2 separate regions of the Homo sapiens genome follow, and region 1 is linked to region 2. The links come from fine-mapping of genetic effects on gene expression. Tissue or cell type: whole blood. Region 2 holds a variant in brackets; the other region holds the start of a gene. All regions are shown on one strand. Distances are from middle to middle.

The links. PIP is the estimated chance that this variant, and not a neighbour inherited with it, causes the effect.
Region 1: it holds the start of APBA2, and the variant in region 2 is fine-mapped to the expression of APBA2 in whole blood (TOPMed, PIP above 0.99). The same link has a PIP of 0.9 or more in blood mononuclear cells.

What each region holds. Positions count from the first base shown.
Region 1 is chr15:28,882,176-28,890,279 of GRCh38, forward strand. APBA2 (amyloid beta precursor protein binding family A member 2) reads left to right here and starts at 3,799. Exons shown (of 15, transcript NM_001353788.2): 1 at 3,799-4,103.
Region 2 is chr15:29,035,746-29,043,849 of GRCh38, forward strand. All of the region lies in intron 3 of APBA2 (amyloid beta precursor protein binding family A member 2), which reads left to right. Among named protein-coding and RNA genes, the nearest start is that of APBA2, 150 kb to the left of the region's middle. The variant G/A (reference allele first, on the strand shown) is at 4,250.

The DNA of each region.
Region 1 (8,104 bases), 150 kb before region 2:
TAGTCCCAGCTACTCTGGAGGCTGAGGCAGGAGAATGGCGTGAACCCAGGAGGCGGAGCTTGCAGTGAGCCAAGACAGAGCTACTGCACTCCAGCCTGGGTGACAGAGCGAGACTCTGTCTCAAAAAAAAAAAAAAAAAAGAAAAAGTAAAGGAAAAGGAAAATCACTGAAAAGTTTTCCTGTCACCCCCGCCCCAGACACTACTTTCTTTCCCAAGGGTGACAACATTTTTCAGTTTACTGTGATCCTTCCAGAAAGGCTTTATTATTGTATATGAGCATCTATAGGCTCACCCTTTTTTCCTTTTTGCTTTTTTTACTCACATGGTGGCATACTACACACATCTTCTGCCCTTTGTTCTTTCACTTAACAATTATCTTGGAGAACTTCCCATGTTAATTTATCATGCGTTTCTTCCTTCTTTTATGGCTGCATTCTATTTCAGTGTTGGGAAGTGCCCTCATGCATTGAACAGTGCCCTTTTCATGGGTATCAAGATTGTCTGCAGTCACTTACTACAGAAACATAGCACCATGAATGATTCTACTCATGCCTGTTTTGCACGTGTGATATACAAGTCAAAAAATTCCTAGAAGTGAATTCTTAGGTCAAAGAGCTTGTGCATTTGTAATTTTGATAGACATCATCTGATTTTCCTACACAGAAGTTGTACTGATTTACACTCCCATGGGCAGTGTGGGTATCTGCCAGTTTCCTCTTGCTTTCTGGAATATATTGTATTACTGAACTCCTGGGTCTCTGATCAGTGAACACAATGACATCTCAGCATAGTTTTAATTTGCATTTCTTTTTCTTTTTTTGAGATGGAGTCTCACTCTGTTGCCCAGGCTCAAGTGCAGTGGTGCGATCTCAGCTCACTGCAACCTTTGCCTCCCAGGTTCAAGCGATTCTCCTGCCTCAGCCTCCCAAGTAGCTGGGATTACCGGTGCTCACCACCATGCCCAACTAATTTTTGTATTTCTAGTAGAGACGGGGTTTCACCGTGTTGGCCAGGCTTGTCTCAAACTCCTGACCTCAAGTGATCCACCTGCCTCGGCCTCCCAAAGTGTTGGGATTACAGGTGTGAGCCACCATGCCTGGCTTAATTTGCATTTCTTATTATGAATAAGGGAGGACAGCTTTTCAGATGTTTAAAAGTCATTTGTATTTCCTTCCCTGTGAATTGTCTGCTTCTTACCCTTTACCTGTTTCTTTGTCTTTTCTGTTAAGAGACAGTCTCATACTGCTGCCCAGGCTTAGTGCATTGGGATGATCATAGTTCACTGCAGCCTGGAACTCCTGGGCTTAAGTGATCCTCCTGTCTCAGCCTCCTGAGTAGCTGGGATTACAGGTGTGAGCCAAGGTGGGGGCCTGGTGATGATCCGTGATGCCTTCTTTTGATTTTTTTTTTCTTATCAATTTCTAGATGCTATCTATGTGTTAGGGAAATTAGCTGCTTGTGATATGAATTGCAAATAATTTTTTCCCCTTTGTTGTAGACTTTGCTTATGGTAGTGATTGCCATGCCAGAGTTTCTTTGAAGTCAAACTTAGCTGTTTTTTTGTTACCACTTTTTGATTTTGTTGCATACTTAGAAAGGCCTTTCCCATTCCAAGATACTTTTTTTTTTTAAATTTAAAATTTTAAGTTCCCAGATACAAGTACAGAACGTGTAGGTTTGTTACATGGGTATATGTGTGCCATGGTGGTCTGCTGCACCTATCAACCTGTCATCTAGGTTTTAAGCCTCACATGCACTAACTGTTTGTCCTAATGATTCTTCAAAAATTCTCTGAATACTGGCAGTTGGCTCAAGCTCACCAGATTTAGGAGTCCTGAGTGAGGCTGGGGGCAGGCCTGTACCTTTATTTTTAAATTTATTTAATTTATTTCATTTTTTAAAATGATAGGGTCTTGTTCTGTCACCAAGGCTGGAGTGCAGTGGCACGATCACAACTCACTGCAGTCTTGAACTCCTGGGCTCAAGCGAGCCTCCTGCTTCAGCTTCCCAAAGTATTGGGATTATAGGTGGGAGCCACTGTTCTTGGCCCTAGGCCTATACCTTTCATCTTGTGGACTGAGGACTTCAGCCACTATCACTCCCGGGTGCTGCGATGGGGTTTAATTTCCAGTGACTGGCCCAGAGCCTGCTCATGGGAAGATCTCAAGGGAGGCTGTTGAAGGAACAGCATGCAACTTACCGGCCCACACACGTTCACACAGATGGGGGTGGGGGTTTGAGGAGGTGGGGGGTGTTGTGTGGATCAGCTTCAGGCACAGGTGTCTGGTTTCCTATGGGATGTGACCACATAACAGTAAGGCAAGAAGATGACTGCATTTATCTTCTCAGAATCACTTCTTCTTAATTGTTGCTTCCCACTATTGGCATTGGTGAAAGGCTGGGCCACAGGAGGCTGGATGAACTTTGTGTTAGCCAGGTAAGCAGAATGTCTATGCAGGTGGAAAGTAGACAGTGAAGGTGTGCTCATCTGAGTACGGAGGGGCATAGGTCAGGAACCTCGTTGGCCTGCCCTGGCCTTTGCCCCTTTGTTTGGCCCTGTGGCTACAAAGCTCCCCTACCAGGAGCAGCCCCCACTGGCGGCTCTGGCCCTGGAAACCTGTGAATGTTTGGTGGGGGCAGGGTGTGGAGAGGCCAAGTCCACAGTGTATCTAACCCTAGTCCATCTCAGGATTCGGCTTCCCCCAGCCCCTTCTCCTTAGGGTCTCAGCTCGGGCCCTCAGGGCAGCAGGAAGATGCGCTGTCCTCACTCCCAAGTCCCCCTGCCCTTCTGTGCCTTCTGACCTGGGCAGAACTTCCCATGCCACAGCTTCGCCTAATCCAGCCACAGGAGAAAAGAAAACGAGGGCAAATCACCACGATTTGGGGGGAGGGAGGCCCCTGAGCCCCCGCTCTGCCCAGACAAGGCATCCTGTGCATCTCCCATGGCTCATCACATCTGCCTGGGACTCAGTGAAAGGGCCAGAGGGCCAAAGGTGACACCGGAGTCTCCAGCACGACCTTCGAGGGCCTCCAGGGCATTTCTCGCGCTGTAGGGGCGGAAGACTGGCTCCCCTGGGGATGCATGTGAGTGTCTAGGAGTGTACGCTCCCCAGGGCCCCGCGGAGGTCAGGGTTCTCTCCATTTAGGACAGCAAGGAGAGAAAGCCCTGGAGTGAGGCCCTGGGGCTGGGGGCTAAAGCAGCACAGAGTATCAGAAACGGGGTGCTGGGATGGTTACCGGGGACCGCCAGGGAAGACTTGGGAGTCCAGCATGCGCCTAGGGGAGCTGCGGTGGGGAGGCAGCAGGGGGCCTCCTCTGCCGGATGGGGCCTTCGGAGGCCGCGATCCCCGAGAGTTCTTCGCTCGAGGGTTCTTCGCTCTAGGGTCCCCCATTACAGCTGCGCGGGGCCGAGCAAGCAGGGCGCGGCGGCCGGGGCAAGGTGCGGAGCCTCGCGTTCACCGGCTCTACCTGCGGAGCCTCGCGTTCACTGGCTCTACCTGCGGGACCAGACCCCTGCAGCTCCCCAGCCAGCACGGCCGGGGCACGCCCGGGAATCTGTGTGCTCCCCAGGGCCCGGGGCGTTCGGGGCGCCGCGCCTTCCAGCGCCTGGGTCCCAGCCCCGATCCCGGAGACCGGCCCGGGGGGACCCGGGGTCCCGAGTGCACCCTCCTGCCCTGCAGACTGTCCCAGCGCCGGGGCCAGGGGGCGCAGGACCTCGCGCACGCCCGGCACGGACGCATCTTTGTCTTCCCTCTCTTCACGGCGCGCGATCTAGCCGGGAATCGTTTTCCGGCCCCAGTGTGCCCGGCGCGGGTGAGGCGGAAGCGGCCGGGGCGGGGGCGCAGGCCCGGCAGCCGCAGGCCGGTGCGGGATGCGCCCCGCAGCCGCGCCGCGTGCGCCCGGCAGAGGCGGCCCTGCGTGCCGTACGCTGCGTCCGGGGCGCGCCCGCCGCTATTCGGGAAGCTATTCAGCTTCCCGGGCTCATTAGCAGTCGCGGTGTGCGGCTCGGCGCGGGCTCACAAAGAGCTCGGCCTCGCGGACTGAGCCGGCGGCAGCGGGGCGGGGACGGCGGCGTACCCGGGCAGCCCAGCGCCCTGGCCAGGTAAGCTGGGGAACCTGGGCTGCCTGACTTGCCGGCGGCGGCAGCCTGGGGCCGCCCGGGGCGCCGCGAGGACCCGGACGCGTGGGGGGCGGCGCGGAGGTTGCGGCCCGAGCGCTCCAGAGCGCTGCCCTCCCGACTCAGCGTGGCTGCGGGGCGGCCGCCGCTGGGATATGGGGGTACAGCCCGGCGGCCCCACTCCTCTCTGACCGGCCGCTTCCCCCTCCCACGACGGGTGGGCGGGCGGGGCGGGGACCAGGCGGCGGCTCTCGCATCCCGCGCGGGGGGCACCGCGGCAAGGGGCCACCCGGCGCGGACAAGAGGCGCTGTGTGGCGGGGCTGTCCGCTCGACTCCTGCCGGGCTGGCCGGGCTGCTTGGCACCGGCATCAAGTCCCCGTGCCGGGCGGCAACTACTGAGTTTGGGGTCGCCTCTGGGTTCGCTGCCCCCAGAGAACCCAAGCCCAGATCTTCGCCCCCTTCCCTTTCCCTTTATAATAAGGCCCAGAGGGGAAAACTTATCAATTCAAAACCCCACACCCCGTTGCTCCTGGGCTGCAGGTGCCCGGTTGGGGGCACGGCGCGGACCTGCCCCTCGGCCTGGCCCCTTCCCCATGGCAGGCACTGCCTGGCAAGGCTGCTGGCGGGAGATCTGGCTGCAGATGGTGAAGGAGAACATCGAGGCCCCCGGTCCCCAAGCAGGGCGCCATGGGCCGGGCAGCGGGCCTCGGTGTGCCCAGGCGGGGAGGGGGCGAACTTCCTTTCTCCGACGCCTGCCGAGGACCGCCGTGGAGAGCAGAGCCTTAGAGGGGCCTGCTAGTCTTAACTTCGTATTTACTGGCAGAAGGAAGGCTTAATTTTTCAGATCTATTCAGATACGACCTGGCAGGCACCAGACATAAATCTGTGGTTGAGTGCAGTCAGCTCCTAAATGGGCATGTGGAGGGTGAGGCACCCCGAACTCGGCATCTTGCGTCTGGCACTGTTTTTGGGCTAAACTGCCTCTGGCCTCTTCAACCTCCTGTGCCTCTTTCTGTTTTTGTTTTTGTTTTATTTTTCTGTTTTCCTTCCTCTTTGAGAAAGGACAGTGATTTTAGAAATAATGACCCGAGAGCTTTGCAGGTTGAAGTGGGACGAGTTTTCCTAAGGTGCAGGTTGGCAGGTGCCAGGAGCCTGCAGGTGGCTTTTTCTCAGGCCTCTGGGTCAGGGTCCCTCCAATGAGGTGAGGCAGGGGTTTCTCCTGTGTGTCGCCACTACGCAGGGGACAGGATCTGGGTTTCCCAGTCCAGGGCGTCCAGGATGCCCTGCCCTCTGTGCTGATTCCTGGGTGACCGTGGGGGCTGCTTCCCCCTGCAGCCTGGGCTGGAGAGGGTCTCCTGAGCTTAGGATCTGCCAGGCAGGAGGGCCAGGGTGACACGGACCTGGAACGCTGGGGCTCCAGGCAATGTCCAGGGCGTGAGTGGGTAAAGCTGGAGCTTGTGGCTGTGTGCCGGCAGCCTTCCCTCGGTGGGCTCTAGCAGCACTGTCAGGGGGGCCCTTGGAGTGGGCTCCATGGCTGGGCTGGGACTGGGTGATGGCATTAGCGATGGGGCACCGAGTCTTCCCTCTTATTTATTAGGAAGTGTGGTCTGTGCCCCTCCCTACTGCCGGTCTCCTGGGCTCCTGGGATGGGAGGAGCTGCAGGCTGAGTCCCACGGGGTGTGAGTGTGTGTGAGCAGGAGAGTTGGGTGGGCGCTGGAAGGAGGTGAAACTGGTGACCGTCAGCTCCTCATTCTCTTCCACCTTGCATGTTTTCTCTGACACCCTAGACTCAAGTTGTGGCCTGCTAGTTAACTTGTTTACAAAACCTTTTTAAGTAGTTCTAACCTCTTTTTTTCAACAAAATGTTAGTTTTACAGGCATAATTGGTGGGGATGGATTGTGAAATGGAGGTGCATAAATACCTAGTTTGCCAACTGAGCTAAGAAATACTGGATAAAAATAAGAGATAATTGTAAAAGACACTGATCACACCCCTGGAAGCTGAGAGGGGTGATAAGACACCTTGATTTTTCCTAGACAAAACTGAGGAAGTCAGAGGAAAAACAGTTGATGGTGAGGTTGGCATCAGGCTGGGCTTTGTTTGGATTGGGCGGCGGTGGCTGTGGTGAGGGCTGTTGGAGTGGGGAGAGTGGGGGTTGAGCCTGGCTTCAGAGACCCCCTCGAGGCCTCAGCTCCTCTCCGGCGCTCCTGGCTGTCCTCTGCCACGCATACCTGCCCCGGTGACTCAACAGGTGTGGGCCTCAGGTGACACCATGGTCCGAAGTCGTGGAGAAACCTTTACTGTCCAGGGGAGGAGAGGACTGGCGGTCGGTGGGGATCGAGACCCAGCACACATCACTGGGTGGCTCGAATGTCTTCGGCAGAGATCACATGCCCTGCCTTGCAGCCTGGTCCTTAGAGAATGGGGAGAGTGGAGAGAGCTCTGGGCCTGGGTGGCGGGCGGTCCTGGCTGTATCACTCACAGGCTGCGTGCCCTCCCCATGCAGTCTCAGTTCCTCACCCTTGCCAGGTGGCTGTGAGGACTGGGAACGTGGAGGCACAGGTAGGATGTAAGGTAGCCACTGACCACCAGGCAGGCCTCCCCGATGTAGGTCAAGTTTGAGATGGTTGCTCACCAGGAGGCAGCCTGTGTGCCCGGTGGGGGCTGGGGGTGAAGTTTGAGAGGGTTGCTCACCAGGAGGCAGCCTGTGTGCCCAGCGGGGGCTGGGGGTGCTCTTTGTTCCCTTGGGTGGTGGTTGGCCCGAGTGCCCACAGGGAGGCTTCTCTGGCTCCTTCGTTTCCCAGAGTTCCTCCCCAACCCCCTGCCGCCCACCGCCTGGGTTGGGTCCAGCTCGTGTCTCAGAGCAGCCTGCTGGCACAGGCTGAGTCAGCTGTCGTGGGCACCGTCTTTTCTCGCCTCCCCTGAAGCCAATCTTCCCCTCTCTCCCTGTCCAGACACACAAGGGAGCCCTGGGAGGTAGGTGACCTCAAGATCATGCAGCCAGGCTCACTCTGTGGAACCCTACGTACTGGTGGGGTGCCACTGCTGTGTGCATTGTGATTTCTGTGCTGGCTGTGAGGTTTCCCAGGTTGGGGGCTGTGGGGTACTCCTGACTCTGCAAGTTGGCCCAGGCCAGGTGTGTCACCATTGCCCAGGCCTTCAGTGGCTTTCCAGTGCTCCCTCCACATCCACGTTACTCGGCTGGATTTTCTCAAGTTCCCCCACTTGCTCCCAAGAATGGCCCCTCCAGGCTGCCCTGGCTCCAGGCAGACAGGCTTACTGCCCAGATCTGCCCTGGGTTGTCCCCACCCCATCCCCACCTGTCATCTTGGCGCATGTCCATCCTGGAGATCCCAACTGAATGTGGGCTCTTTCCCTCTTATTCCTTGGTCCTCAGATTTGTCAGGCCACTCTTGCCTCAGGGCCTTTGCACCTGCTGTTCCCACCCCCTTGGCATGAGCCACCCCCAGATGCTCACATGGCTGGCCCCTCACTTATTGCCCACTCCCTGAAAGCCCTACATAAATTGGCTTTGTTAACCTTGCTTTGTGTTTCTCTTGTTAACCTTGCTTTGTGTTTCTCCTTAGTACTCACCATTCAGTGTGTTATTTATTTACTTGTTTGTTTATTGTCAGTCTCTTACCACTCAATTGTAAAAGACTTTGTTCACCTCTGGATCCCCAGTAGCTAGAAAAGTGCCTGGCACACAGCAGAGCCTTAGCGCTGTTGTTGGATGAGTGAGTGAACGAAACACGGGAGCAGTAGTCTCCTTGCAGCACATGTCCTGCTCCCTGTGCCTCCTTTTCCCGCGTCCCAGAGCTGGAACCTAGCTGTGTTCACATTTGGATCCTCCTGGCATGTAGCACAGACCCTCACTCAGTGGGCAGTCAGGAAAGAGCTGTAGAATTGTACAGTGCAACGTCAGTTTCACATAGGCCAGAGGAGAATGTGTTTGGGAAGGTAAGCAGCCCAAAGAGTGAGCTT
Region 2 (8,104 bases):
GTGTGAGCAGTGCACACTCCCAGCCTCCCCCTGACCTGCTGAGCCAGAAGCTCTAGGGCTGGGAGCCAGAAGCCCCGCAGGTGGCTCTGCTGCATGGGAAGGAACTGTTGGGATGCAAAGCAGGCCAGAGAGGACAGGAGCAGACAAAGATCTGAAGCTGAATATGGACCCCTCAGGGTGCCAGCTGTCACCCCGGAGCGCCCCCCTACCTGGGGAAGCTTTGGCAACCTTCCTGGTTGCAAGCCAAGGCCCAGGGACTCCACCGCTGGTGACCCCCTTACCTGGCCCTGGCTGTGCCCTTTGGCTCAGGGCTGGGCCCGGGAGGCTGGAGAGGTGCCAGGGTTCATTGCCAGAGGCTGCCTTGCCCCTCCCTTGTGTCCTTGTAGGCAGAGCCCTCACCCCCCTATGCTTTCCCGCCACCCACCAGCCACACCTCCTTGCCCAGGCCTCAGTGCCTGACAGATGGCCTGAATACATATATATATATTTTTTGTCTTAAAAAACTATTTTTTTTAACATATCTACAGACTCTCCCCTTACCAGGTATTTCTTGGGGAAGAAAATGTTGCTTAGTAGACAAATGTCCCCAGGTCTCCTTCAGGGAGGATGAGCATCACCTGCATTGAGGAAGGGGTGCTTCAGCAGAGATGCTCACTTCAAAGCGAGCCTCACTAGTAGCCACAGGGTGCACAGCTAGGATGGGAGGCAGTGCTGCTGAGCCAAGGGGTGGTGGGAGCAGCTCTGGAGAAACCTGGTCGGGTGGTGGGTGAAGCTGCCTCCACCCCAGCAAGCGATATGGGGCCTCCCCACTGGACTGGGGAACTGTGTATGAGGGTTTGGGGTGCAGAGACCTCAGGTGGCCTTCAAAGGAGGGGTGGCCAGAGGCCCAGCAGGTGACTCCCACACCTCTTTTACATCATCTCCTGCTGAACACCCCAGAGTTCCCTGCTTCTTACAGTGGTAACATTTGTTTAGGAGTTGTGCAGTAAGTAGACCAGGCATGGTGGTTCATGCCTGAAATCCCAACATTTTGGGAGGCTGAGGCAGGCAGATTGCTTGAGTCCAAGACTTTGAGACCAGCCCGGGCAACATGGTGAGACCCTGTTTCTATAAAAAATACAAAAATTAGCCAGGCAAGGTGGTGTGTACCTGTCATCTCAGCTATTTTGGAGGCTAAGGTAGGAGGATTGCTTGAACCTGGGAGGTGGAGGTTGCAGTGAGCTGAGATCACACCAGTCCACTCCAGCCTGGATAACAGAGAGAGACCCTGTCTCCAAAAAAAAAAAGAGAAAGTTTTGCATAAATAAAGTTAAATTATTTAAAATAAAATTATTTAAAATAAAAGTTAAATTGTTTAAAATAAGCTAGGAGAAACTTGCTACTTAAAGACATCTTTTGGGAGAATTTTTATTCAGAAGATAATCATTTATCAAAGTGATTGAGTAACCTGTAATTTATCCAGTGGAGTTTAATTTAAGCATTTGAATTTCATGTTTACCCTTTTAGCAGCTATCATTGAACCCGTCTTGGTAGCTCCAAAGCACACTTAAATATGAGATGCAGCCCCTGCCTCCATTGGCTTATGGACTGGGTGGGTGTGTAGCCACCGTGTACAGAAAGTTAAAGATGGTTCTAGGGACCAGGCAAACAGCCTGGGGTGAGTTACCAGAAGGATGATGTGAATCATCGTGTGAGATTACAGGTTGCCCATCACCATGGCCAGTGCCTCTGAGGGTTTGTTGGGATTAGAGGGGCAGCTTCCAGGCCTTTCAGGAGAGGAGGGTCTTTACATGTCTTTTGTGGGTGAGGACCTGAGGCAAGCAGAGAGAGACAGCCAGAGTTACGTGGGGCTGGAAGAAATCAGGCCAGAGTGACTGGGACCCTTGACTCTCCTTGTTAGAGGGTGTGTTTGTCCATTTTGTCCTCTTATAACGTAGTACCACAGACTGGGTAATTTATAAAGAAAAGAAGTTTATTGGCTCAAAGTTCTGGAGGTTGGGAAGTCCAAGAGCATGGTGCCAGCATCTGGTGAGGGCCTTTGTGCTGCCTCATAACATGGTGGAAGGCATCACATGGCAAAGAGACAGAGAGACAAGATAGGGGCTAAACTTAACCTCTTATGAGGAGCCCTCTCCCTGGGTAATGGCATTAATCCATTCCTGACGGCAGAGTCCTCATGGCCTAATCACCTCTTCAGCATACTGTCTCTTAATACTGTTATAATGGCAATCAAATTTCCACATGAGTATTGGCAGGGACTTCTGAACCATAGCAGAGGGACTGCCTTCCCCATGGATCCTGGTGTCCTGCACCCTGGGCCCAGTCCACTCTCTGGCTGGCACCTCTGGTTTTGCCCCCCAGGACTCTGTAAGCTCTAGCCAAGGCAGCTGGTGCTGTGCTTGCCAGCTCTGTGCTTTGACAACAACTTCTGCCTTCCCCACACTGTCTGAACTCCAGGGTCTCCTCTTCGTTTTGGTGTTGGGGGACTCTGGCTCACCACAGAGCTCCTCTCCAGGCACGTCCCTCCACAGCACCTGGGAAATCCCCTTTTCTGGCTCCAAGTGACCTATCTTCCGAGGGCTACTTGGGAATTCACAGAACCTCAGCTATGGAGAAGCTCAGAGGATTGGGGGATTGAAACCGTAGGTCATCCTTGAATGGTTAGCTTTTGAAAATAATTGTGCATTTTTCCGTGGTATGGGTTGGTTTCCTGTCCTGTCTCCACAGTGCTGAACCAAATCAGCAACGCTGCACTTTGCAACTCTGACAGTTGAGCTTCCTGGTCCTGCGATTAGAGCCCTCAAGATAGTACTGAAGCATTAGGTGAACGGTGGGGACAGAAGCCCAGACTCTGTCTGGAGTAGGGGCCCTGGAGGGACACACACCCACTTCCTATTTGGCTCTGTCCTATATGCAGGCATTTTTTTTTTTTTTTTTTTTTTTTCTGAGACGAAGTCTCACTCTGTTGCCCAAGCTGGAGTGCAGTGAGGCCATCTTGGCTCGCTGCAACCTCCACCTCCTGGGTTCAAATGATTCTCTTGCCTCAGCCTCCCGAGTAGCTGGGATTACAGGTGTGCGCCACCACACCTGGCTGATTTTTGTATGTTTAGTAGAGACAGGATTTCACTATGTTGGCCAGGCTGGTCTCAAACTCCTGACCTCATGATCTGCCCGCCTTGGCCTCCCAAAGTGCTGGGATTACAGGTGTGAGCCACTACGCCTGGCGCATGCATTTTTTAGAAGGACCTTGAGATGATTTACTATTGTTGATCAAGGAAGAAGATGAAGCGGGGAGATATGCTGCCTTGAAAGTGTCCTTTGAGCATGCAGCCTTATTTCAGCTGTATGTCAGGGTGTGTGTGTGTGTGTGTGTGTGTGTGTGTGTGTGTGTGTGTGTGTGTGTGTGTGTGTATCAGGGTTGCTGCTGAGGAGTTGCATTGCTTCCCTAAGGCCCACCAGGGAGATTCCTGTGAGGGGGTCAGACAGGGCCTTTGAAGTTTTATGTGTTATTAAAGAAGGTCGTATCTTATTACCACAAAGACCTGGGATATCTGCAGCAGGGAGTGGTAGAGGAGAGGCTGTCAGGCCAGCCCTTAACAGCGTAACTCTCTCATTCCTTCCTCAGTTCCTCCTTATCCTCCTGGCATCCAGCTCCCCATCAGAAACTGTGAATCCTAAGATATGATGGGACCATGGACCCTTCACATTTTTGTCATATTCATTATAGTGGTTCTCAGCCTTGGCTGCATGTCAGCCACCCAGAGTGTCCAAATTCTCCTCACCCAGAAATTCTGACCTCATGGAGCTGGGGCAGGATCCAGGAATTGATATTTTTTAAACCTCCTCAGGTTGATTCTAGCATCCAACCGGGGTTTAGGCCCGAGGACCACAGCCTGCCAGTTTTCGTGTGGCGTGACCTTTCCTGCCGATGATAATGCTGATGATGTCAAGCCTAGCTGAACGCTGATGGGCAGTGTCTGATTAATCGAATGAAGTAAAAATAAACAGGTTTTAACTTAATGTACCTCCCCAAATCTGTAAAGAGATCCATGGATGACATCAGTGCTGTCCAGGATGGAGTAAGCCCACTATCGTCCATTCCACTCACGGATTAGAACTCAAAACTCTGAACAGAATGAAAAGCAACCCCATCGGGAAGGGGGTTGGAGCTTGAATGCGCAGCACATTAGAATAGAGTTTCTGTGGTTGGGTTTTTTTCCCTCCTTTGATCTGAGTGCTGACTGATTTG[G/A]GAAATAGCACAGTGGGCAGAGGCAGCAAAACTCTGTGAGAAACCCATCTTTGTGGCCAGAGGGTTGAAAAGAGGAACGCTGCAAGCTGAAGATTAGGAGGGATCACTGTTTTGTTTTGTCTTTTCCTCTCTCCTGGCCCTGCCAGACCCAGAGCAGTAGCACCTACTACCCTGAGAGAAAATCCAACTCTCTGGTTGGAGGAACCGGTTGTTGCATAAAGGTGGTGGGAAGAATCCCCATTTTTTTCTCTTTCTCATTCTGCTTTGCCCTCAGCAGGGGCTGCAGTTGCAAGAAACTGTGAAAGAGTGTGATGTGTTAGGCTAAAACTCTGGGAGAGCCCCAACTTTATGGGCAGAGGAACCAGGAAAAGGTGCATCTGGTAGTAGCGGAATATGGAAGAAATCTTGGAGAGGGGAAATCTGGAAAAGAGGGTTTATTTATGTTTCTGAACCAACTCCATGTATGGGATATACCCAGAGAACCATAGCAAAGGCTTTGGATTTAAGCTGCAATAGAAACCGTGGCCCGGGTCCCAGACTTAATCCCTGAATAGCTCGTGCTTGAAGCCAACTCACAGAGCACAGCAAAGGGTTTTGAAACCGCACTGACGTTAACTCCATCCCCTAACGAAGGGGAACCAGAGCTTGTGTTCTCAACCTGAGTGGATTTATCGTCTGATGAAGCAGACACATGAAAATCAACATTCTCTACATTCTCAACATTCTCTCTCATTCAACATTTTTAATCAGGGTTAAAATGTACATATTAAAGCGATCTGGGATGCAATCTACAATTATTTGGGATACAAAGAAGCAAAAAAATCTGACTAATTCTTCAGTCAATCAATTAAAAATATTTTTTAAATGACCCAGTTCTCAAGGGAAAAGGCAATTAACAAATGTCAACCCTGAGATGACATAGATGTTGAAATTATCAAAGACTTTAAAGTGACTGTTATAACCATGTTCCATGAGGTAAAAGATGGACAGTTCTGAAATTAACAGAAACATAGAAATTCGCAGCAGGGCAATATGAAAAAAAAAAGAAAAAAATAGGAATTTTAGAATGAAGTAAAAATATTACTGGATGAGTTCAAAAGCAAATGTATATGACAGAAGAAAGAATCTAAGTTAGCTCTAAGTAGATCAATAGAAATTATCCTGAATAAAAGAAAAATGAGTTTAAGAAATGAGTAGGCCAGGTGTGATGGCTCATGCCTGTAGTCTCAGCACTTTGGGAGGCCAAGGTGGGAGGATCATTGAGCCAGGAGTTTAAGATCGGCATGGGCAATATGGTAAGACCTCTTCTCTACTAAATAAATAAGTAAATAAATAAAATTTTGCTGAGCCTGGTGGCACACACCTGTAGTGCCATCTACTCAGAAGGCTGAGGCAGGAGGATCACTTGATCCCCAGAGGTTGAGGCTGCAGTGAGCCATATTTGTGCCACTTTACTCCAGCCTGGGTGACAGAGCAAGACCCTGTCTCAGAAAAAAAAAAAAAAAAGCAATTATTAAAAAAAGGTATCATTTACAATAGCATCCCCCCAAAAAAGAAAGAACTACATATAAATAAGAAAATATACAAGATCCGTATGCTGGAGACTAAAGAATACTGATGAGAGAAATCAAAGACCCAACTCATGGAAAGATATATTTATATTTTGGAAGATTCAGTATAGTTGTGAATTCTCCCCAAATCGACCTATAGATTCATTGCAATCCCAATCAAATTTCCAGCAGGATTTAAAAAACTAGATATTGATAATGGGATTCTAAAATTTATATAGAAAAATAAGGGATCAATAGTGGAAACAATGGTTAGATCCCTGGTGAAAAAATATTCCTGATTACATGCGGGAGAATTTCCCAGAAGATGAAAAACAAGGGAACTCTGAACTTTGAATAAAGGGCACATGATCCTTATGGACTTTCTTAGTTCTCTAGGGCTGCTGTAAGAAGTCCACAGACTGGGTGGCATAAACAACAGAAGCTTACTGTCTCAGTTCTGGAGGCTGGAAGTCCCAGATTGAGGTGTCCTCAGGACTGGTGCCTCATGAGGGCTGTGAGGGAAAGTCTGTCCCATGCGTCTCCGTTTGCTTGTGGTGGTTTGCTGGCGATCTTTGATGTTCCCTAGTTTAGAGCCCTGCCTTCATCCTGTTTGTGTGACTGTCTCCACAATTCCCCTCTTTAGAGGACACCAGTCCTATTGGGTTAGGGCCTACGCAAATTACTGTATGTCAACTAATTATATCTGCAGTAATCCCCTTCCTCTCTCTCTCTCGCTGTCTCTTCTTTTCTTTCTTTCCTCACTGTGTTGCCAGGCTGGAGTGCAGTGGCCCGATCTCAGCTCACTGCAACCTCTGCCTCCCGAGTTTAAGAGAGTCTCCTGCCTCAGCCTCCTGAGTAGCTGGGACTACAAGTGCATGCCACCACGTGTATTTTTAGTAGAGACAGGGTTTCACTGTGTTAGCCAGGATGGTCTCAGTCTCCTGACCTTGTGATCCGCCCGCCTCGGCCTCCCAAAGTGCTGGGATTACAGGAGTGAGCCACCACACCCAGCTGCAGTGATCCTATTTCTAAACAAAGTATATTCTGAGGTACAGGGGATGAGAACTTAAACATATGAATTTTGAGGGGACATAATTCAGCCATAACACGGATGTGGCTTATTTTAAATCTACACAGTACTGTATGCACTTGGAAATGACTAGAAAAATGTGAAAATCACAGGGCAACAAGCAGAAGCAGACTTTTCCCCCTCGAGTCTTGTGGCCGCTTCTCTGGGGGTGACAGATTTCTTTGTCTCTGAGGATGGATCTGGTAGAGGGTGTATTTAGCAGTGTACTTCTTTGCACGGGGTCCTGGCAGCTGCAGAAGCTGCGCCCCTTTCTCCAGCATGTTAAGAAAAAGGTCAGTGCTGGTAACGTTCTGTGTTCAGTTGCCCTCTTATCTGGACCCTCGCTTTTCCCCTAAAGGCATCCAGGAGCAAACATGACATGCAGAGGTAGACTTTGCCAAGGCACCGCTATTTCCAGAAGTTCTTGTGGGAGAGAGTTGACTTCTTACTGTTAGACGTAACCCAGGAAGAACAGCAAATACCGGCCAGGCCAGAAGTGCACACAGTTACTCTGTTCCTGTTACGGCATTAATGCTGCTTTCAGGCGTGGACTACATTGTGAGATATTGAAAATGCCATTTCCTGGAGACTAGTATTGATGATGAAGGTCTGACAGCAATTTTAATGATGTTTAAAGGGCAGATCATCGCCCTTTGCGTATTTCGAGATGAGGATGCAGTGGGGCAGATGTCTCAGCATATTGAATGCCCAGAAGGAAGAAGTTAGGCCCAACATTAACCCCAAGCCTCTTCCAAGGGCTGCTGAGACTTAACACCCTTCCCACCGCAGAAATGTCACCTGACAGGTATGGCTGCCCAAGGCTTCCTGGGCTTTTTTATGCTTGTCTTTTTTATGTTATTTGTCTGTAGAAGTACTATAGCCAGGAATGACTAGAGGAAGGAAATAGGTACCATTGTCCCATCACTCGAAGGCAGCCCTTGCTAACGTCTTAATGCATTTCTTCACAGTTGATTCTGTGTTTATTTGTTGTGAATAAATCATAACAATACATATTACATGCTAAGCCTTTTGTAAATATTTCAGATGCCACAAAATTGTCTTGTGGAAGTGCTAACACTGATTTATCTAGGATCCTGTTATTGAAGGTTTAGTGTGTGCTCAATATTTTTGTCCATTTCACTGCCGTTTTCCAAAGAGAACACATCCCTTTGTGACCCTAAGCTAGGTTAGAGAGCCTTGCTTGACAGTGTTGGATATCAGTATTGTTTTTGGAAG